Regions from separate parts of the Homo sapiens genome. Here all the other regions are reported to be linked to region 4. The links are microRNA targets in miRTarBase. Many come from high-throughput screens and were not tested one by one. Region 4 holds a microRNA gene; each other region holds the end of a gene's coding sequence.
What was found. The annotated mature microRNA hsa-miR-1193 reads GGGAUGGUAGACCGGUGACGUGC and lies in region 4 at 2,363-2,385, opposite strand. An mRNA with a match to its seed (bases 2 to 7 or 8) in the 3' UTR can be bound and repressed. Matches are read on the target gene's strand: a 7mer-m8 pairs with bases 2 to 8, a 7mer-A1 pairs with bases 2 to 7 and ends in A, and an 8mer does both.

Region 1: miRTarBase lists COL22A1 as a target of hsa-miR-1193. Seed matches in the 3' UTR shown: 8mer at 2,629-2,636.
Region 2: miRTarBase lists ABI2 as a target of hsa-miR-1193. Seed matches in the 3' UTR shown: 7mer-m8 at 1,500-1,506.
Region 3: miRTarBase lists NLRP11 as a target of hsa-miR-1193. The part of its 3' UTR that is shown has no 7-base or 8-base seed match.
Region 5: the mRNA of DNAAF10 is a reported target of hsa-miR-1193. Seed matches in the 3' UTR shown: 7mer-m8 at 3,794-3,800.

Annotation. Positions count from the first base shown.
Region 1 is chr8:138,585,775-138,590,054 of GRCh38, forward strand. It overlaps COL22A1 (collagen type XXII alpha 1 chain), which reads right to left. Exons shown (of 65, transcript NM_152888.3): 65 at 2,461-3,666. The coding sequence ends at 3,479. Among named protein-coding and RNA genes, the nearest start is that of FAM135B, 91 kb to the left of the region's middle.
Region 2 is chr2:203,426,784-203,431,063 of GRCh38, reverse strand. ABI2 (abl interactor 2) reads right to left here. Exons shown (of 12, transcript NM_001375670.1): 12 at 1-3,887. The coding sequence ends at 3,712. Among named protein-coding and RNA genes, the nearest start is that of ABI2, 100 kb to the right of the region's middle.
Region 3 is chr19:55,781,658-55,785,937 of GRCh38, forward strand. It overlaps NLRP11 (NLR family pyrin domain containing 11), which reads right to left. Exons shown (of 10, transcript NM_001394894.2): 10 at 3,742-4,214. The coding sequence ends at 3,968. Among named protein-coding and RNA genes, the nearest start is that of RFPL4AL1, 15 kb to the left of the region's middle.
Region 4 is chr14:101,028,166-101,032,445 of GRCh38, reverse strand. MIR1193 (microRNA 1193) reads right to left here and starts at 2,394; the gene lies at 2,317-2,394. LOC124903407 (mucin-2-like) reads right to left here. Exons shown (of 5, transcript XM_047432049.1): 5 at 1-4,280. It overlaps MIR494 (microRNA 494), which reads right to left and starts at 2,812; the gene lies at 2,732-2,812. MIR543 (microRNA 543) reads right to left here and starts at 459; the gene lies at 382-459.
Region 5 is chr2:68,127,337-68,131,616 of GRCh38, forward strand. DNAAF10 (dynein axonemal assembly factor 10) reads right to left here. Exons shown (of 8, transcript NM_138458.4): 8 at 2,469-4,109. The coding sequence ends at 3,902. Among named protein-coding and RNA genes, the nearest start is that of DNAAF10, 28 kb to the right of the region's middle.

The sequences.
Region 1 (4,280 bases), not on the chromosome of region 4:
GGTGTGGGAATTACGAACTGCTAATTACAAAATAATAATTATTGGGAACTATATAAGGGAGGTGAGCCAGATCTTTATTTTGTCAAGTAAGGATATAAAAAACAAAGAAGTAAATATTACTCTACACACACACACACATACACACACACACCCCACATTCTCTTTCTCTCACTATTATTTCTCACAGTATGAGTCATTTTAAACCCTAAAAATTAGAGAGATTCCAGTCTCAGAATGAAAAGCCATCCTTTCAATGCAACACATTTGGGTTGGTTTTCTGTCCAGCTCACATTGTTGACCTCTGGTCCCACCTGGCAGGTGAACACCTCACCCTGTACCAGTAATTGGGAACTTCAGGCCTGTGACTGCCAGGTTTCTGACAAAGAACTTTTACCTAAAATATACAGAAAACTCTTGAGACTCAAAAATTAAAATCAGACAACTTAATTTTTTAAAATGGGCAAAACATCTGAACATAAACTTCACCAAAGAAGATATTCAAGTGGAAAATAAGCATATGAAAATATGCTGGATATCATGTTATTAGGAGATTGCTAATGGAAGCAACAATGAGATACCACTACGCACCTATTAGAATGACCAAAATCCCAAACACTAACAGCACATAATGCAGGTGAGATGGTGGAGCAACAGAAACTCACTGCTGGTAGGAATGGAAAAGGATGCAGCTATTTGGAAGACCAATTTGGCAGTTTCTTACAAAACTAAACATGTTCTTACCATGCGATCTAGCAATTGTGCTTCTTGGTATTTACCCAAAGGAGTTGAATAATCACATCCACACAAAACCCTGCACAGATATGTTTATAGCAGCTTTATTCATAACTGCCAAATCTTGGAAGCAACCAAGATGCCCTTCAGTAGGTAAATGGATAAATTCTGAAACTTCCAGGCAATGGGATATTATTCAGCACTAAAAAAAAGGGGGTTATTAAGCCAAGAAAAAGCCACAGAGGAATCTAAATGCAAAATACTAAGTGAAAGAAGCTAAATTGAAAAGGCTGTATGATACCAACTAGATATTTTGGAAATGACAAAACTATGGAGACAATTTTAAAAAACCAGCAGTTTCCACAGGTTAGGAGAGAAGAGGAGTATGAAGAGGCAGACAACAGAGACTTTTTAGGGCAGTGAAACTCTTCTGTATGATCTTATAATGGTGGATAATGGCATATCAGTATCCATTAGTCCAAACCCATAAAGTGTGCAACAGCAAGAGTGAACCCTCATGTCAACTGTGGATGTTGGGTGATAGTGACGTGTCAATGTAGATTCATCAACTGTAACAAACGTACCGCTAGGGTGTGGGATTTGGAAGGTGGGTGGGTGGGGGAGGCTGTGTGTGTATGTGGGTGGTTGGGGGTGGGCAGGGAGCACATGGAAATCTGTACCTTCCTCTTAATTTTGCTGTGAATCTAAAACTGCTCTAAAACTTAGTCTATTTCATACAACAACAATAAAAATGAAATAGAATAGTAAATGTTCGATCAAGCACACTTGATCAGGTAGATATTTTATTTCAAAACCCTTGCTTTATATATGTATGCATGTACTGAGTCACTAAGAAATTACACCTCTTACTGTGGGTCATGGTCAGAAAATGTTAAAAGTCACTGGATGAGAGTATTTCTGAGGTCCCTGAGATAGTTTCTTCAAATGAAAAAGGGTATTAGAGTAATACCCCTGCATCTTCAATGGTTGTGAAAACCAACTGAGATGGTAAACGTGAGAAAGACTGAGAGGGAGGCTGTCTCATTCTGCACCAACAGGAATGGCTTCTTTTGGACCCCTGACACCCATCCAGCCCCAGAATCAGCACCAGCTGACTGAACACAAGGAATGGGTATCAGATTTCATTTTTAAATCATTGCAATAATACTTCTTTACCCATGGAAACATCAAACTTCTTGAAATGTTTATGTTCCCAGTTTCTAAATCAATTAGAGGCATCCAGAACAGGGGATCACACAAAGGAAGTTCTTGATAAACATCTACTGCTTTAGTCTGTAAGTGGCTAACAGCTTGGGTGAATGGACAAATTAATGAATGGATGAATCAATGGATCGATCAGTCGGTCCACCAGTCAATCTGTCAGTCAAGAACAAATGCAGGAAGAGTATTGGTGACTCATTTGGCCTCTAGATGCAGTTTAACAGGAAAGGTTCTGCTAAAACCTTCCAACTTGCTTCACTCCCTCCCCACTGTGATCCTGCATAAATGTGCACATCTAAATGTCTGCTTCCATATGAAGGGAGGCTAATGAACGGCCCTGGACTAGCTCAGTCTGGCACACACATTCACTCCCTCGTTCATTCACCAGGTGGGCTGAACATGTGGACTGTGTGCTACGGTTCTCACAAGAAAAAGATACATCCCAGTGCTTGAGGAGTTCACATTCAGGTGGAAGTCGAATACAAGAAATCAATCATCAAGAGGAACTCAAGAGAAGGAAACTTGGATTTATTGAGCACCTGTTCAGGCAGGGCATGTCGCATACACACATGCACTTGATGCCATTTATTTCAGAGACAGAGCCGCCTTGGAGATACAAATTTCCCAGCTCTGGTCAGTGCCCTGGCCAACTGCCCATCATTAGGGAAACACAAGTGGATGGTCACCACATCCACTTGTTTTATAATTAATATAATTGAAACCAACAAGAGGAACTTGAAGGGGCCTTACACAGTTTAGAAGACAAATTAACACTCAAGGGCTGCCTCTTCAACATAGGTTTTCCCATCTTTGGCCAAGACATATGATCCCACAAAGCCATTGCCAACCCACAGACATTATTTCACTTCTGTGAGCTTAGAGCACTGAGGTGGCTGGAGTGCACCCTGAGGGCTGATTCTGTGTTTTCCAAATGCACGTCCCGTCGGGAGGTGGGAACATTCCTCATGGTTGCAAATTCTTTCTCTTTCTGCTTCTTTACTCTCTCTGGACAGTGGTGGTGTTTGTATTATTTCTCCTGGGTGATCTCCGGGCATGACTGAGAATGAAGCCCATTGGCTCATTTTCTTAAAGTTTTTCTTTTGAAGAAAGAGGTAAATTTGCCAAGTGTCTGGTCAGGGTTTTGTAGCACCAAGAGTTTCCTTAAAATGGGCAGTTACGCGTCAGATGGGGGCTGTCAGAAGAATGAAGAAACAATCTCCTGCCCCACGAATCAAGTTTTCCCAACTTTAAAGGAGTGGAAAAGAACTCACAAAGCATCAGCATATGAAATAATAATAATAATTAACAACAACAATAATATTAATAATAATCTGACCGACCGGCAGCGTCTGTTGGATTTAATAATTTTGAGGTCTCTCAAGAAAATAAAACAAAAAGCAAACGATAAAAGAAAGAAAAAAAAAAGGAACACATGGCTGAAGTCTTTCAAGACCTCTGGCTTCCCACTGGGCTCTGAGTTCAAGTTTCAGAAATCCACTGCAGTCTTCTGGCTTTCCAGAGTCCTTTAGGGACCCTTCACATTACCCGGCCGGGCAGCAAGGCTGGCGAAGTAGGCACACTGGGAAGGGTCACATTGGCCTGGGGGACCGGGAGGTCCTGGGAGGCCAGGATGTCCAGCTGGTCCTGTCTCCCCTTGAGGGCCAGGGATCCCAGGAAGTCCATCTTTAGCATAGCCAGGTTCCCCGGGTTGACCTGGCCCAAGGAGCAAAAGAAACAGAAGGTGGTTCAAGATCCTTCTGGGAGGGGATGGGCCCTGAACTCACAGCTTCCATTCACTATGAACTCAGGACCTGAAACGTCCTCAGACAGAGCATCCCCATGGTCTGGGAGCTCTGAGCAACTAGAGTGGTCCACATAAACACCAGGTAGCAGGAGCACCTCAATATGTAGAAGAAGGGGTTGCTTTAACTATTTGACCTAGGATAGTAATCCAGGTACCACTGGAGAGAAAGAAACAAGGGTAGATTGAGACCAGGTAGGGCATATTTCTCCACTGAAGAGTCAGATGAGAGACCTGGCCTTCTGGGTTCTTACATGGGTCTAGGGAATGAGTCTGAGTGGAGAGTGGACACCAAGTCCTGATCATTAACCCTCAGCCCCAATTCACATGACCTTAGAGACACCTGGTGACATTCCATTGTGTAACATCCAACTTGTTCCAAATCTGTATTTTCTCAGCTTTATCTACACATTAAATTTGAACCACATATTTGGATTACATTAAGCTATTCTGTAAAATCATGGCCAAAGACAACATCTAGGATGCAAGTAAGTGACACTTAAAATAGTCCAAAATTGAGACCCAG
Region 2 (4,280 bases), not on the chromosome of region 4:
CACCTGTGAATTCCTCCATCAAACCTTTTTCAAAGGCAAAGGTGACCTTCAGGACATGTCATGCTGTCTCCACAAAGGAGAAAAGAAAAGGTAGTAAAAGATAAAAACAGTTCTTAATGCAGAAAGGTCACCTACTAAAAGAAAATGAACATAAAAAGATAAAAGCAAACTACCATCATTTTGATGCCTCCCAAAGAGAAAAATCTTTAGTTATCTTCAACATAAACTGCCAAGGAGCACAGGTACGGTCCAGACATCACGGTAAATATGCATAAAATATTGTCTAGCTGGATAATAAACACCAGCAGTAGGAAAAAGGAGGGGATGAAAATGTCTCACACCCAGTAACTTTTAGGAACATAGCAAAATTAGCAGGCCACTGTCAACTCTAAAATGGGAACAGCAGGCGCCTCTGAGGGAGATAGGAAGTAGCTAAATGATGGAAAATATTAAACAAGATAGCTTAGAAGATTCATATTTATTCCAAATGGGAGGCTGAATCTCTCAGATGTCGATTTTGACACATTGGCACTATTTTTGTTTCTGATTTATTGCCTTGGCCGTAAGTTCAAAGGCAACAATAAAGTGTACTTTCATTAATACCACCATGGACTTTCGAGTATTAATATGACAAGAAAAGACAACTATTCATTTTTTTTAAGGGGACTGGACACACAAACTTCAGGAGGGAAGAATCCCCTCTCCCATTAGAATCCCTCTATCTTGATAAAATGGTTGCTTTATTGGTCAGATTTTGGACTTGGATCGTCTGTTATAATATTAATAGTACACAGCATGTAAGATTTTCTGCATTCATTTGAAATTCCTAATACCAACCATCTTTTAATTTATAAAAAAAGAGGGAAACTTACAATAAAACAAAAAATACTACCCTCACAGATGATTAATAGCATGCAATCTATGAAATATTACATACATTAAAAGTCTCCAATTACTGTGTGCCTGACCCATCACACAGTATCCTTCCAAGACAATCTATAGAATTCAAAACTGTACAAAAATTATAAAATATGCAGAAAACCCAAAAGGTACTGTTTGTAAAACAAAGATCACACACACATTAGTACTAAATAGGGAAAAAAAATCAGCAGACCCATGGACTACCCCTGCTCCCAACCACAGGTCTTCAGTATAAAGGACTTCACCAGTGTCTTCTGCACTGCCCCCATCCCGTAGGGGTCCAAAAGACCAGCTGCATTCCTGCTGACCGCCACTAACTCTGTTTTCTGCATAGTTGTCTTCCCTGCTTCTGTAGTGGTGAGCTGTGGGAACTTTTTTTTTTTTTTTTTGATGGAGTCTCGCTCTGTCACCAGGCTGGAGTGCAGTGGCACAATCTCGGCTCACTGCAACCTCTGCCTCCCAGGTTCCAGTGATTCTCCTGCCTCAGCCTCCCAAGTAGCTGGGACTACAGGTGTGCGCCACCACGCCCAGCTAATTTTTGTGTTTTTAGTAGAGATGGGGTTTCACCATGTTGGCCAGGATGGTCTCAATTTATTGACCTCATGATCCACCCACCTCGGCCTCCGAAAGTGCTGGGATTACAGGCATAAGCCACCACACCCAGCCTGTGGGAACTATTTATTGGATTTCAAAACACCCTCTGCCTCATTAATCCACTAAGCTTTCTCAGCAAAAAGCTGTTTAAATAAATAATGGGAACATCTAATTTAAAACAGTTTTTCTAATTATAGACCAGTACACGAAGAAGAGCTTAACTTATCCAAGTATAGTCTAGTTTGGGTCCATAATGGAGCTGAAGGCTCAGAGGACATTCAGGGCCATTACACTGCAGGAAAACAAGGAATAAGGGATGTAGAAATGACCTAAGAAAAGCACGAAGTGGAATGTATACTGGAGGCAAGTTAATGAAAGCTAATAAATACAAAGTGCTGGGAAAAATCTAAAAGCAAAATAGCTATTGTAACTTGCAATGCATTAAAAACAACTTTAAAACCAAAAAGTCTTGATAAGGAAACTCTATAGTGGGGTCTCAGTTAAATGCTGATGATTTTTAATGCTCAGATAACATTAAGTGGAATATTAACTTCTGCATCCGACACCATCTGAATTTTCTCACACACTACTACACTTGTTCACTTTTCAATCAAGTTCCACTTTCTGAACTTGTTCAAAACCTCATTTGAAATATATCCAGCTACTGCTTTTCCCCTTTCACCTAGCACAGGGCAGTTACCTGGCAAAGCTCTATTCTGGCCAAGTCACTGGGACTGAGTAGAACCCACGTTAGCAGCTCTGGACCTGAACAGGAGCTGGCCCAACATCACAGTGACCACCCACAAAGAGACAAGCCCTCCTGGATTTTTTTCAGCATTTCTTATACTGACTACAGTAGTGATGATTAAAGTTATCTGCCCTACAGACTCCACTGAATTTGAAGCTGTATTTATTGTACAGATGGGGGAAATGTGTTTTATTGTGTCAGTTATATTAATTTTTATCAATGTGATTAGATACATATTTTGGCCTATTAATCTTATTCATTATATTCTTAGTCTGAGATGGGTTTTAATTCTGACTAACAGCAGCTACTTAAGAGTCCAATCATACAAAATCAGGAGAGTATTACCCTTTCTACAGCTAAGCGAGTCAGTAATACAGCAGCAACTAATACTGGCCATTAATAACGTCCAGAGAGCACATTAGCAAACCTTGTACTCCCAGTGACTGTCAGGAGACTTGAAAATAACTACTATTCTCTTCCAAAGTAGAATAGCGTTTTTCTAGATAGTGAAGGAAATGATAGTCATAGTTGGTCTGAACTCCAAGATCCTACTCCTCAAAACAGCACCGAAGCAGGGGTTCGGGATGCCTGCTAAGAGCATTTCCACAGTTCAAGTCTCTTCAGAACCTTAGGGACCTTCGTGTCTAGCTTCACACACCCACCTCCACATATGAACCAGCCTACCACACTTCACATCTGGGTACACTGGCCATTAGCAACAATGCAGTCTCATGCAGCAGCACATTAAAATCAAACGGGTGGCAATCGTTCACCACCCTCAGAGTGTTGGGAGACTTTCACATTTCATCATCCTTATAATCCACAAACAGAAACATGAAGGGATGCAAGTGAGTTCAGCATTCACTCGTTTGGTGCACTCAAGTGCTGAGAGAATGCAGAATTTACAGTGTCACAGAGGAAAAAAGCCATCTGAAATAATTGTAAAAATGGTTAAGTGTGGTATTTAAATGTTGGTTCCCTCCTCTTCATACAAGTGGAAGAAAAGAAGGGGCTAGGGTACCCACTGGGCCATGAGGTTAACCCCTTAGCACAGGCAATGAAGAACATCCAATGCCACAGATTCTGCAGGAGGAGAAATCCCAAGGGTATACAGTATTCCTGAGAAAGATCCCAGATTTTTCTGAATCAGTCTTAATCTGATTTTGTTTTGGCTACACAGTTATGCTGTTATACCTTTGACATACATAAAAATGGTCATTTTATTTCAATCCAGACAGCTCAGCATTGTACAAATGATGGCAGAAAGATCCATTTGTTCAGACTCAGCTTGCTTTGTTTTTAATACTGGGGAATAAACCAAAAAAAAAAGTGTAATTTTTATCATTTGTATCCTTCATTCTACTTTACTGGAGTGGAATCCCCAGGGCCTTCAGATAATCTGGGAAGACCTGACTATTCCTGTGAGGCAAGCACAGCCCTGCTGAGCTTTACTCAGAATAATGCATGATAGACTCAACGTAATTCCCAGGAAAAAGCCCAGTCACTCCATTCATAACTCCCTCATACCAACCATCGTCATTCTTCTTGATGACATAAATAATGGCTCCTTCCTGAAAGGACAGCTCATCTTCCTTGTCTTTTGTATAGTCATAAATTGCCACAACTAGGAGGGAAGAAAACAAAACAGGATGTGAAAGACAGTAATATTCCTAGAAAGACAGAACCAAGCCAGTGAATAGCTATCTGTTCCCAAATCCTGTAGCACTCAAACATGGTGACTTTCTAAACACCAACCAAAACTTACATGTTTTTTTTTCTAAGTAATACCCAGTCATATACAATGAAATTCCATTTTCTAGGGATGTTAGGCTCTAAATTGAGTACAAATGGGGAAAAAGCACATTTAATCAAATGTGCTTTTGATGACCTTTTAAGAGCCTACAGGGAAGTACCTCATTGAAGAGGTACACAATCCTAGAATCAAGAAAGATGGCTGTTTCTTCATTTGAGTTTGTGTTGAGATACCATATTGTGGTTTTTTTTTTTTTTTTTTTAA
Region 3 (4,280 bases), not on the chromosome of region 4:
GTTTATTTTTGTTCTTCTGCCCTTGATTTTCTTGAGTTCTTTGCACATATTTAAGATAATTAATTTAGTATTTGGAGAGGAAGCCCAATGTCTTGGCTTGCTCATATGCTATTTTTTCTTACGACTATTATACTGTCTTGTGTGTGTGCCTCATTGTTTTGGTAAGAAAAAGTGGACACTGTGTGTGGCAAACCCTGGACATCAAATTCTCACCCCTGAGCAGGCTTTCTTGTTGCTGCTGGTTGTGAGTTGGAGTCTTCTGTTTTTGTTTTCATTTTTTGTTTTGTTTGAACCTTTGTAAACTACTGTGTAAAGGTTTCACTTTCTCCTGTGTGGCCACTGAAGTCTCTGCCTTCTGGTCTACTAACAATTTGATGGAGATTTTTAAAACATGCCTGAACGCAAACCCAAAATTCTCTCAAGCTCTTTGCCATGGGATCCCTCTAGGGAGCTTAGCCAGGATTTTGATTTTTTTTTTTTTTTTTAGACGGAGTCTAGCTCTGTCGCCCAGGCTGGAGGGCAGTGGCGCGATCTCGGCTCACTGCAACCTCCACCTCCCAGGTTCACTAGCCAGGATTTTTACAACTCTCATTTCAGCCTTCATTTCCTGCTTGCATGGAGCCTCGGGATCATCAGAGGTAAAACATAGGGTTTCTCAGATTTTTATAATCTTGCATGGACATGTATGATTGAACTCAATCCTTGGTATACCTCAGTGCTATTCAAAGCCCTTACTATCTCATGTAATTCTCCCCCCAGACTCTTCCTTAATAGGCTTTTCATTCTGTCATCTGTTTTCCCTGTTATCCCTCACCCAGGCAACTTCAGCAAGTGTATTTGTCTTTAAGTGCTTTTAATGACACTGGCACCCCCCAATAAATCAGCTTCAGTCTGTGTAGATCTAAAAAGGGTGAAATAAAGGCAAGCCCTTGAGCCAACCCTTCAAGGAACCACTAAGATAGATGGAGGCACACAACCACAATTCTTTGAGAACAAAGATTCTTCATCCTGTGGCATCAGCGTGCTGGCCTGGGAATGAGGGACTCCATGTTCTCAGCAGCCATCAAGCTGCAGAGTGGGGAAGAGTAGGTGGGTGAGTCAAATTACCACAACTCAGCTGGGTGCAGTGGCTCACGCCTGTAATCCCCGCGCTTTAGGAGGCCGAAACGGGCGGATCACCAGGTCAGGAGATCCAGACCACCCTGGCCAACATGGTGAAACCCCATCTCCACTAAAGATACAAAAATTAGCTGGGCGTGGTGGTGGGTGCCTGTAATCCCAGCTACTCGGGAGGCTGAGGCAGGAGAATCGCTTGAACCCGGAAGAAGGGGCTTGCAGTGAGTCGAGATCATGCCACTGCACTCTGGCCTGGTGATAGAACAAGATTCCACAAAAAAAAAAAAAAAAAAAAAGCCACAACTCTCTTCCTGAAATTAAGCAGCTTCTTCCTTCACTCACGGTTCCCCTGGAGGTTGTAAATTATTAGATTCAAATTTTCCACAAAGGCTGATTTTGACAGTTATTTCCCAGTTTAATTTTTGTTTTACCAAAGACTACTTTTAAAATTCCCTACCTTGAAACTTGCAGTGAGATCACTCCATTAATTTTAAACAGAATTTTAAAATTCTGATATTATTGCTCTATATGCTCTAAATAGGGCTTTTGTCTATTTGTAGGAATGCTTCCTCTCAGTGCAAATTATCTAGAATAAAGAAGGGAAGTCTGTTTCTCCAAGGAGAGGCACAGGAGGCAGGGCTATATAGGTAACCTGGATGACAAATTACAATATGCCATGGAGTATGTGGACATTGAAGATATGCAATATTGAGGTGGGAAGATGGCTTCAATGACTTCAGAATTTTCAGTCATGGGAAAACAAGAGGTTTCCTTAAATTGTGATAGCCTGGCCGGGTGCAGTGGCTCACACCTGTAATCCCAGCACTTTCAGAGGCTGAGTTGGACGGATCACTCAAGACCAGCCTAGGCAATATGGTGAGACCCCTTCTCTACTAAAAGTACAAAAAATTAGGGGGGTATGGTTGCATGCATCTGTGGTCTCAGCTACTGGGGAGGTTGAGGTGGGAGAATCACTTGAGCTCAGGAAGTCGAGGCTGCAGTGAGTTGTGATCGTGCCACTGCATGCCAGCCTGGGCGACAGAGTGAGATCCTGTCTCAAAAAAAAATTATCTTATTTTAGAAACATGTCAGAAAAATCAAAGAACAAGCCCAGTTGAAACTACAGTAAGATCCTTTGATTCACCTTCAAGGTTTCTTTCCACAGCTGATTATGACTTGATTCTGAAATCAGAGTTTTGAAAAGGAACATAGAAAACACTTTTAGCCAGTTATTCTGCTAATCATCAGAATCTTCACATCATGTCCAGAAGTTGCATTTATCAGAAGTGGCTGAGGAGGTTTTGCATTGGGAATCAAATATTCTCATCAGAGAAGCCCCAGACTCACTGAGGCAATGTCACTGAGAGATACTACAGATGACATGATCGTGACATCTCTGTGGGGAGATCAGGTCCAGGAGCCTGTCTCTAACTAAGGACTCAGGTGCCCCAGCTTATGGTGACTGACACATCCCTGTACAGAGCTTGTTGCCAAGACCACCCCAGTGAGTGCTTCTGTACATTTAGAGCAAAAGGCAGAACATAAAGATCTCAAACAGGAGAAGAGCTCAGAGCTGAGGGTGAGCAATAGCATTGGGCAAAATAGGTTTACCCCTGCCTGGCTCTGAGCCACACCATCCATGCCCCGGCTGGACCAAGACAGTGGCACATTAAGCCAGGTGCTTGGCTTGAGCTCCTGGCTCAATGTGGGACCAGAAAGCTCAGGTTTACTGTATACCCCTGTGTCCTAGAAACACTGTCAAAGGGAGAAATTAGGACAGTTCTCCTTAGAAACTGAGCCAAGGATCACTTGAGGTCAGGCGATCCAGACCACCCTGGCCAACATGGTGAAACCCCATTTCCACTAAAAATACAAAAATTAGCTGGGCATGGTGGTGGGCGCCTGTAGTCCCAGCTACTCAGGAGGCTGAGGCAGGAGAATCACTTGAACCCGGGAGGCAGAAGGCTGCAGTGAGCTGAGATCACACCACTGCACTCCAGCCTGGGCAGCAGAGCGAGACTCCATCTCAAACAAAAAAAAAAAAATTTTTTTTTCAGCACGTAAAGACCCTAAAACCTACCCACCTTGAGTAGGTATCCTCTCACCTATGGAGGCCTATTAGGTACAGCAACCAGATGCTTAGCAATGGGGCATTGTAAATACAGTGTCAGGGTTGGAAACATTATCAGAGGATGCCCAGTTCAACTCCCTCTTCTGAAAGAAGGTGAAAAGGAGACGCTTTTTCTGAGGCCACACATATCTGACATTTCTCCACAGCTTAGAGAAGTCACCCTTCATCCCATGGAACACACACAAGTTTGTGAGCGGAGCTGGCTAAGAGCAGGGGAGATACGGAAATGAATGCCAGTTACGGTGTTAGGTAGATCCGGGAAGAACATGGTGCAGCAGGAATACGAAGTCAGGAGGGAAGGTGAGATGAGGATTTCATTTCGAAGGATTCCTAGGGACACCTTCTAACAACTCTCCCTAGACCAAAACAAAAACAAAAACAAAAACAAAAACAAAACCCAGAAAAACAAAAACAAGAAACAAACCATGAAAGGATCATAGTTTCTTTAGTGTTACTCCACCGTGCCCACTGATGAAACAATCATGCTTCACAGCTTTTTCCAATGCATTTTATCCTTTATTACTTCATATAATCCTTTTAATACTCTTGAGACAGTGTAGGAATTTGAAGTGGTTGACTGGATCAAGGTCACACACACACACACACACACACACACACACACACACACACACACATCAAATAGGAAAATTATAGTCCTAATTCTCTTGCATCCCAGTCACGGTAGTAATTTATAATAAATACTGTTTACGTACAACATGATCAAAGGGGTTGCCTAGATGCTGTATTTGACGTTCTCATGGCTGCAGACATTCTGGGAAATTTGAAAAACATGTAATCCAAATTAGAATTAGGTATTATTGAACCTGGCTGAGAAGCAGGTGTCACACCAATTTCTCTGCCTTCCTTTAAAGACCAAGTTTCAGACAGAAAGATCAAACTGGGTTTTCTTTCCTTTACAGTCATCAGCAACTGCTGGGTTTGTGTGTTCAGGCCAGTTAATGGAAGCCTGAAGGAAAACAGAGAGAGAACGCCGTTAATGCTACATGTGAGGTCTCAGCTTTGTTGCATCAAT
Region 4 (4,280 bases):
AGTGTCTACTCTGGCAGCTATCACAGGAAAGGGAGAAACAGTTTCTTTCCCAGAAGCTGCAGCAAGCATCTCCTTGCCTATCACTGGCCCAGTGGGGTCATGGGCCTATTCCGGAAGCAATTGCAGTGGCAAAGGAGAAGAGATCAAGAGATTCGCTTAAGCCTGGGCTGGTGGAGGAAGTGGGGCAGGGTCAATGCAATCAAAGCACACGGCGGGAAGACGGGAGCTTTCATAAAAAAAAAAAAAAAAAAAAAAAACAAGGAGAAATTTAGGAAGGAGAAAAGACATGGGGTAGGGAGGTCCTGATCAGCGTCCACTACAGGGGCCCATGTGCCTTCCCTGAAGTTGCACCCAAACCAAGACGTCTTCAAGGCAGAATAGGATACTGAAAAAGAAGTGCACCGCGAATGTTTCGTCACAAATAAAGCGAAAAAAACACGGGCAACTTCTCATTAAGTACCGCACGTCAGCACCGTTGACAACACTGCTTCTCCGCGGCTGGTATCACTCCTGCGGGCTTCCTGAGAGCACATGGGTCCTGATGCGCACCGGGCAACCGGTGACAAAGATATGGCCGTGCATACAACCCCCTCAAGACCTGGGAGACATCTAACAGGTCTGCCCCCTCTGCACAGGTGGCATTGTGTCCTGGAGCTGCTTGTGAGCACGATGTGTTCAATTTCTCAATAACAAAAAGTCTCCTCCAGTAGCACAGAATATGACAATGGCACAGAAACAGTGATTTTGCATCCTAAAAGTCCTCCTGAGGATACATGAGGAGGGACCAGGAGAGTCACAATAACTCCCCAGATAAGATGGATGAGATCTACCACCCACCCTTTAGGGACAAACAGCAAAGTGTCTGCCCTGATGGAGCCTCTGAGCCAAGGGAGTCGTCATAGAATGGGTAGCGCAAGGGATTTTTTAACATTTGCCTCAAACAGATGGAATGACCAGGGGTCCTGGCACAGCGTCACCACTGTCGATCAGCCTGAGCCGGAGAAGAGCCCCCGGGGCAGACCGGAAGCTGCGGGTTAGGGAGGGATGAATGAGCAATGAATAAAACCCAAGTTCTCAGGTGGTCCACGTGGACAACTGACTTGGTGGTGGCAAATCCTCACCGGTTCCTGCATTCACACCTCACCACAACCCCCTCCCGGGTGGAGTGGGCCTCCCCGCCCCTTGCCTTGGGTTCGGCCGTGTAATTGTTCTGGTCAATGATCTGTGGGTAGAAATATAGCAGTTCCCAGCCTTGGCCTTAAGGAGTTTCTGCGTTTCTAATTACTTTCTTGTGCCTCTGCCGTAGCCATGGGAGCATACCAAGGCCGGGGTGAGAGCTGTGGGTCCCAACTTCAGCCCTCAGGGCAGGCCTTCTCTCCACAAGCCATCCTAGGTATGGGAGGGAGACTGAGGATGAACGGACCAAGACACACACCCGAAATAGAATGTCTGCTCTCAGACAAGATGTCCACTCCCATACCTCTCCATGGACCTGACGCCAACAGCCCTCCCCTGAAGCGCGTGTCACAGCCGGGACACATCTTCCGCAGTCTGACACTGAGGGCATCCAGGGCATCTGGGGCCTCGTAAGGCAAGCAGAGCTGAACAACAGACAGAGATGAGCAACGGCAACAAAGCCCTTTCCCCAAGCATGGACTGAACGCTGCCCACGAAGCGGCTGGATTCTGAGTGGTCCCAACACAGGAAGGGCTCATCTCAATCACGCTGCCAGCTCCTCAGTCCCCCATCCACGACTCACCAGGAGTGCTGCTGACACCAGTGGCCCTGCCGGAATCTAGCTTCATGTCCAGGAAGTCCTCCTATGGAAAAGAGATGGGCCACGTAGCATTCATCAAACACATGGCAAGCTTTGTCAGACAGCCTCTCTTCATGTAGCACAGAATAAAGTGGCCCTCACTACCACAGCTGTCCCAACGCCTGCCCTGTCCTGCACACACACAACACTCCTCAAACCCTTCCGAGGATAAACCACACCCCTGTACCAGGTCACACACACACCTCCTGCAGTCAGCATGTGGTGTGGGGTGGGACTTTCCCTGATGGGGCACTGAAGCCCAGGCCTCTGCAATCCTGGCATTGTCTGTGGCCAGACTATCAGCCCTCCTGGGCAGGATTTGAAACCAAAAGAGAGATTATTCACTGATGATTGCTTATATTGATTTTAACGAGGTAGGAGGAGGGGGCCCCGAAGGGAAACCCCTCCTAAAATCCTGCAGAGTCCCACGGGCCCCACGTCCTCCCACATCTTCTCCGAAGTTGCCATGTGCACCAAGATGTCATCCCACAGATGGACCGGGCGCTGGTGGATAGTCAAACGGGTGACCTACATCGTAAATGAAGTGCACGTCACCGGTCTACCATCCCCTCAGCTACCCTGGAGAGCAGATGGCACCATCGTCCCTTCAATGACGTTGCTAGCGTGTCCAGAAGGCCATCCAAGCAAGATCTCACACTGAAGAGGCGCCACCCACCGTGAATCAACAAATAGACAAACACCACAATGAGCAACCTCCTTCAACCACAGAAGCACAGGCCCTTCTCCAAACTCAGCTTCCCCTCCTAGGGGCCCTCCATGGCTGGGGCCTGAGAGCCACACCCCCACGACGCATGGCACGCTGTCAGCCTCGCTTGCGCCTACCGAGAGTGGAGCCGGCAACGTCCCTCCCTGAAGGCTGCATCAGGAACAGGAAGTGCCTCCAGGGTGGGATTTGATACTAAAAAAGAGGTTTCCCGTGTATGTTTCATCATAAATAAAGAGAAGACAACACGGACAACCTCTCCTTCGAGTATCGAAGATTAGCACTGATCAAAAAACAAACAAAAAAAATCAAAACAGAACTGCCGAATCTTCGCCGATGTTGGTGTCACCTCCAGGAAGATTCCCCGAATCTACATGGCACTGGGTAGACCAGACGTCAGATGGCTTCTATTTGCGTGTCCCAGGTTGCTTTTGGGAAGTCAGCCAAAAGCTCTTCAAGCCTTCACAATGAAAAGAGGTTGCCCGGGAAACATTTTCCGCCAATACAGAGAACACTTTAGGTACAACCTCTTTCCAGGTATTGGAGCTTTCCTGACGGTGGAACCAGGGTTTCCTTGTGGAAGTCCAGGCCACGGGAAGTGCCCCTAGTCATAATGGTTTGCATCCCAAAGTCAGTGCGTCAAGAGAGCTCATGAGTAAATCTCGAATTCTGTGGTCAAGAAGCAGGTGGCTGGGTCTGCAGTTAGCCGGTGCCCAGGCCCCTGTGTGGCACTGGCCATGGGTCCAAGCAGCCTTCCAGGCAAGGTGTGATTCCAAAAACAGATACATGGCACCGAGGAAGCTGTAAGCAAAGTGAGTGCCTGCTACACACGGCTAGGGAGGGAGGGTCGGGGAAGCCAGGAGCACCGCCAGGCCACCTTCCTCCAGGTCAAATCCCACTTAATGCCTTCTGCTGCCTTCAATCCAATTCAGCAGAATCAAGAAATAAAAACGAATCTCATTTCCTGATGTGAGCTCCCCAAATGTTTTAGCCAATTCTGGGCCGGATTTTCTGTTTGCTATAAAACTCCTTTGACAATAATTGTTTTCATGGTGGGGGGAGTACTGTTATCTCCAGACTCTTTTGCATCTCAACAGAGAGTTAGATCAATCCTGACAGGGCTGGGGAGAATCAGGGGTCAGAAAACTTCAGGTTTCCTCTTACAAAGTTGTAAAATTGTGCCCTCTTTTCCCCCGAAGGTGGACCCCGGAGCAGAGGTCTGAGAAGAAAATCCCAGGGCCAGGCTGCGGCTCTGCACCCTTGCCACCTGTCCTTTGACCCCTCCGTAGCCAGCAGAGCACCCAATCTACATGGACCCAGCAGCCGCCTACCCTGGATACCCCGGAGGCAACAGCATACTGCCTGCTGTCACATGGCCTTGACACACTCTCTCTGCCCTCTCTTTATGAGGGCTCTTTTCGGCTGGAAGGAACGGTGTTTGGGTATCAGCTAATAGGAAGGATTGGTGGCGGAGGTCATTGGTGCTACCTCATATGTTCTCTCTGGTTATAAAAAGCAGGGTTGACATGGAAATACCTGGCCCTTCTCCAGAACCTGAGGCCCTCCTCCCTCACAGTCCCATCCCCAAATGCCACAGATGAGCCGAGGACCCACAGTCACAGCTAAGTGCCATCAAAACAAATGCAGCACCAGCAAAACCTACTTCTGTGCCTTGGCTTTAGAGCTGGCAGGGAGCCTTTTCCTTCCCCAGAGGCTGGCATCACCTCCAGGAAGTCCTCC
Region 5 (4,280 bases), not on the chromosome of region 4:
CATCAAAAAGTAGAATTTACTTCATCTCCACAGGGAATTTTAAACATTTAGCTGGGTGTGGCAGCATACACCTGTAGTCCTAGCTATTCTGGTAGCTGAGGTGGGAGGATTCTTTAAGCCCAGGAGGTTGAGGCTGCAGTGAGCAATGATGGTGCCACTGCACTCCAGCCTGGGCAACAGAGCAACAGAGTAAGACCTTGTCTCACACACACACACACACAAAGAAAAAGGAAGTAGAATGTATGTACTCTGCCCTTGCACTTGGGATAGGAGGTTGTGATTGCCTCAACTAATAGTGTGGCAAAGTGATTGCTAAGTAAATTATGAAGATAGGTCATTAAAAAAACAAGATAGCTTCTGCCTGGTCTTCTCTTGGGATGCTCACCCTTGGAACCTGGCCACCATGCTCAGGAACCCTATGCCATGTGGCGAGCTCAGCCCTTGCTTCTCAGATCTGGTTGAGGTCCCAGCTAACAGCCAGCACCAACTTGCAAGCAATATGAGTGAGTGCCATCTTGGAAGCAGGTCCACCAGCCTTTAGTAGAGCTGCCTGCCTCATGCTATATGGAGCATAGATGAGCCTTCCTTGCTGAACCCTGCCCAAATCATAGACTCCTAAGCAAAATAAATGATAGTTAGTGTTTAAGATATGAAGGTCTGCAGTGGTTTGTTATACAGCAATAGGGAACTGAAATAATCGTGGTCAGCCAGGCTGCAGTCTTGACAGTTGTCACTGCCTGCATGTATGTATACACAAAAACATGTTGAAGAAGTGTCAGTGAATTGAAAGAAAACCCTGAAGGCAATAGTGGAACATGTTTTAAAGAAATGCTACATCACAAACACTTTTATGCACAAAGGACAATATTATAAGGAAAACCATGAACACTGATGGCTCTGAATTCAAAAAGTGATTTAGAAGAATTAAACTCTGAATATGAAGGAATCTAAGGAATAGCATACCAAATTTATTTTGTATAAATTTTTCTTTAATTTTTTTATTTCCATAAGTTTGGGGGGAACAGGTGGTATTTGGTTACATGAGTAGGTTCTTTAGTGGTGATCTGTGAGATTTTGGTGCGCCCATCACCCGAGCAGTAAACACTGAACCTGATTTGTAGTCTTTGATCCCTCACACCCTTCCCATCTTTCCCCGAGTCCCCAAAGCCCAGTGTGTCATTCTCATGCCTCTGCATCCTCATAGCTTAGCTCCCACTTATGAGAACATACAATGTTTGGTTTTCCATTCCTGAGTTACCTTACCTAGAATAATAGTCTCCTGTTTATGTGGTTCTTTTTAAGGATGCACACAAGTGATACACAATGGAAAAAAAACTATGTGTAAATAAAATTAAAAGAACACTCAATTAATATAAAGCAAATAGTGATAAAAAGAAAGGATTTTATCACAGTTTCATCATACCAGCCTAGCATCAGTGATATCAATGACATCTTAGATTTAATGAAATACAGGTGTTTATTGTTGTTGATTCTATTATATTACCAAATACAAGTGTCCTAGGAGAGATTTCCACAAATTTTCCATTTTTTTCTTTGCAAATTAAAAAAAAGTAGATATAAACTTTTTTAAAAGTTCAATTTAATTTTTACTTTCATAATTATATCCCATTGTTCTATAAAACATTGGGGCTGGGTGCGGTGACTCACGTCTGTAATCCCAACACTTTGGGAGGCTGAGGCGGGCGGATCACCTGAGGTCAGGAGTTCAAGACCAACCTGGCCAACATGGTGAAACCCTATCTCTACTAAAAATACAAAAATTAGCAGGACATGGTAGTGCATGCCTGTAATCCCAGCTACTCGGGAGACTGAGGCAGAAGCATTGCTTGAACCCGGGAGGCAGAGGTTGCAGGTGAGCCGAGATCATGACACTGCACTCCCGCCTGGGTGACAGAACAAGAAAAAAAAAAAATTTGCCTCAAAAAAAAAAAAAAAAAAAATTTGGAAACAACAACAAAAAAAAAGCTTAATTTTCTCAACGTAATATTCCAAATAAGTGACTCTCCATGATCACCTGAAATCACATAAATTTTGCATATTATGAATGTTTTAGTTGGCTCCGTTTTCTTGAATGGCATAGCATCAGTGATATTGATGACATCTTAGATTTAATAAAATACAGGTATTTATTGTTGTTGACTCTATTACCAAATACAAGTGTTCTAAGAGAGACTTCTAAAAATTTTCTAAACTAAAAAAAAAAAAACCTTAATTTTCTTAACTTAATATTCCAAATAAGTGACTCTCCATGATCCCCTGAAATCACATATACTTTACATATTGTGAATGTTTTAGGTGGCTGCGTTCTCTTCAATGGAGGTGGGGGAGGGTAGGCTTAATGAAAATGTGGTAAAGTCAATAATTCCAAAAGGCTTAGCTAAAGATATGTTGAACATTAAAGAAACAAAGTGAATTAAAACTACTAATTAAGCATTTATAAAGCAAAATGATGTGACAATGTTAACTTTATTACTACTGTTAAGGTAACAGAATCAAAGCTTCTGTAGATCTCAAAAACAGAAGTTTATTCATAAAATGCATTTTTAAAGTATGACCAAAAATAAGACTACAAAACCCCTACAATCTTGTACATTTCACCATCACTTACCACAGTCAAAAACCAAAAGTCTCACCAATTCAGTTCCTGTATTTTAAGTAAAAAAGAGCTCTTTAAAATCAAAGCATTTTGTTTTATGAATTAAATTGCAGAAAATAGCTACCCAAATCTAGACCAACCGTGCCGTTTTGAGAGAGAGAGATATATATATATATATTTGTTTTTTTTTTTTTTGAGACGGAGTCTCACTCTGTCGCCAGGGCTGGAGTGCAGTGGCGCAATCTCAGCTCACTGCAATCTCCACCTCCTGGGTTCAAGTGATTCTCCTGCCTCAGCCTCCCAAGTAGCTGTGATTACAGGCGCCCGCCACTAAGCCCAGCTAATTTTTTGTATTTTTAGTAGAGACGGGTTTTGACCATGTTGGCCAGGCTGGTCTCGAATTCCTGACCTCGTGATTCACCCGCCTCAGCCTCCCAAAGTGCTGGAATTACAGGCGTGAGCTACCACGCCTGGCCCACCATTTTGATATTTTATACAATAATATTATGTCCAGAAAATTACTCACACTGAAATCTCTCAAAATGTATTTATGAAGGTTAATTCAGTTTTTCCAAGGCAAACTCTTTTAAACCAAATGAAATGATTCCCACCACAACATTATAGACACTAAAACATAACACAAGCATAAAGATAAAATATGGAACTTCAGGGACACAGAACAAATCTGAAATATGTTTAATTATAGACAACTATTGACTTAGAAATGGAAGGGAGAGAAAAGAACTGGCCCTGGAGATAGTTTACTTGGTGCTTCTGATACCCACGTGCAGCAGCAAGTCAGCAAACAAGCCCCGAGAGAGGCTGGAGGCTGGCCCAGAGGCTTGTGGCTGGGGTCTTTTATCATCAGCCAAATCCAGCTTTGTTCAATGAGGGTCAGAGGACTCCAGAACCTATCTTAAATTGTGTGAGTGTTCCTCTGGAAGGTTTCAAGTCCAAAGTCTTTTTTTTTTTTTTTTTTTTTGAGACAGTCTTGCTCAGTTGCCCAGGCTGGAGTGCAGTGGCACAATCTCGGCTCACTGCAACCTCCGCCTCCCGGGTTCACGCCATTCTCCTGCCTCAGCCTCCCAAGTAGCTAGGACTACAGATGCCCGCCATGACACCCAGCAAATTTTTTTTTATATTTTTAGTAGAGACGGGGTTTCACCATGTTAGCCAGGATGGTCTCGATCTCCTGACCTTCTGATCCACCCGCCTCGGCCTCCCAAAGTGCTGGGATTACAGGAGTGAGCCACCGTGCCCAGCCTCAAGTCCAAAGTCTTGAAGTCAAATTTTATTGAGCTTTGTAACGATCAGTACTCTCACCGTTTGGTCAAATGAACTACAGACGCAGAGACCCCTTTTATCTGGACTCCAATCCAAACTTGAAATGGGCTGGGTGGACAACGTAACATTCTGCAGAAGGCTTACAGAACCTGCGACTCCCATTTCTATTCCCTCAGAATCTTTCTTTGACCGCTGAATAGGGTATTCACTGAAAACAAGATCAAAATGGTAAGAGCGCATAAATCTTAGCTTTCACCATTTTATTTTTATACATACACTTCAATGACTCTATTTCTCAGTTGGTTACTGGGACTAATAAATACTTAAAGAATCTTTCTAATACTGAGTTGTTTGCAAATAAAGAGACAATTTCAACCTC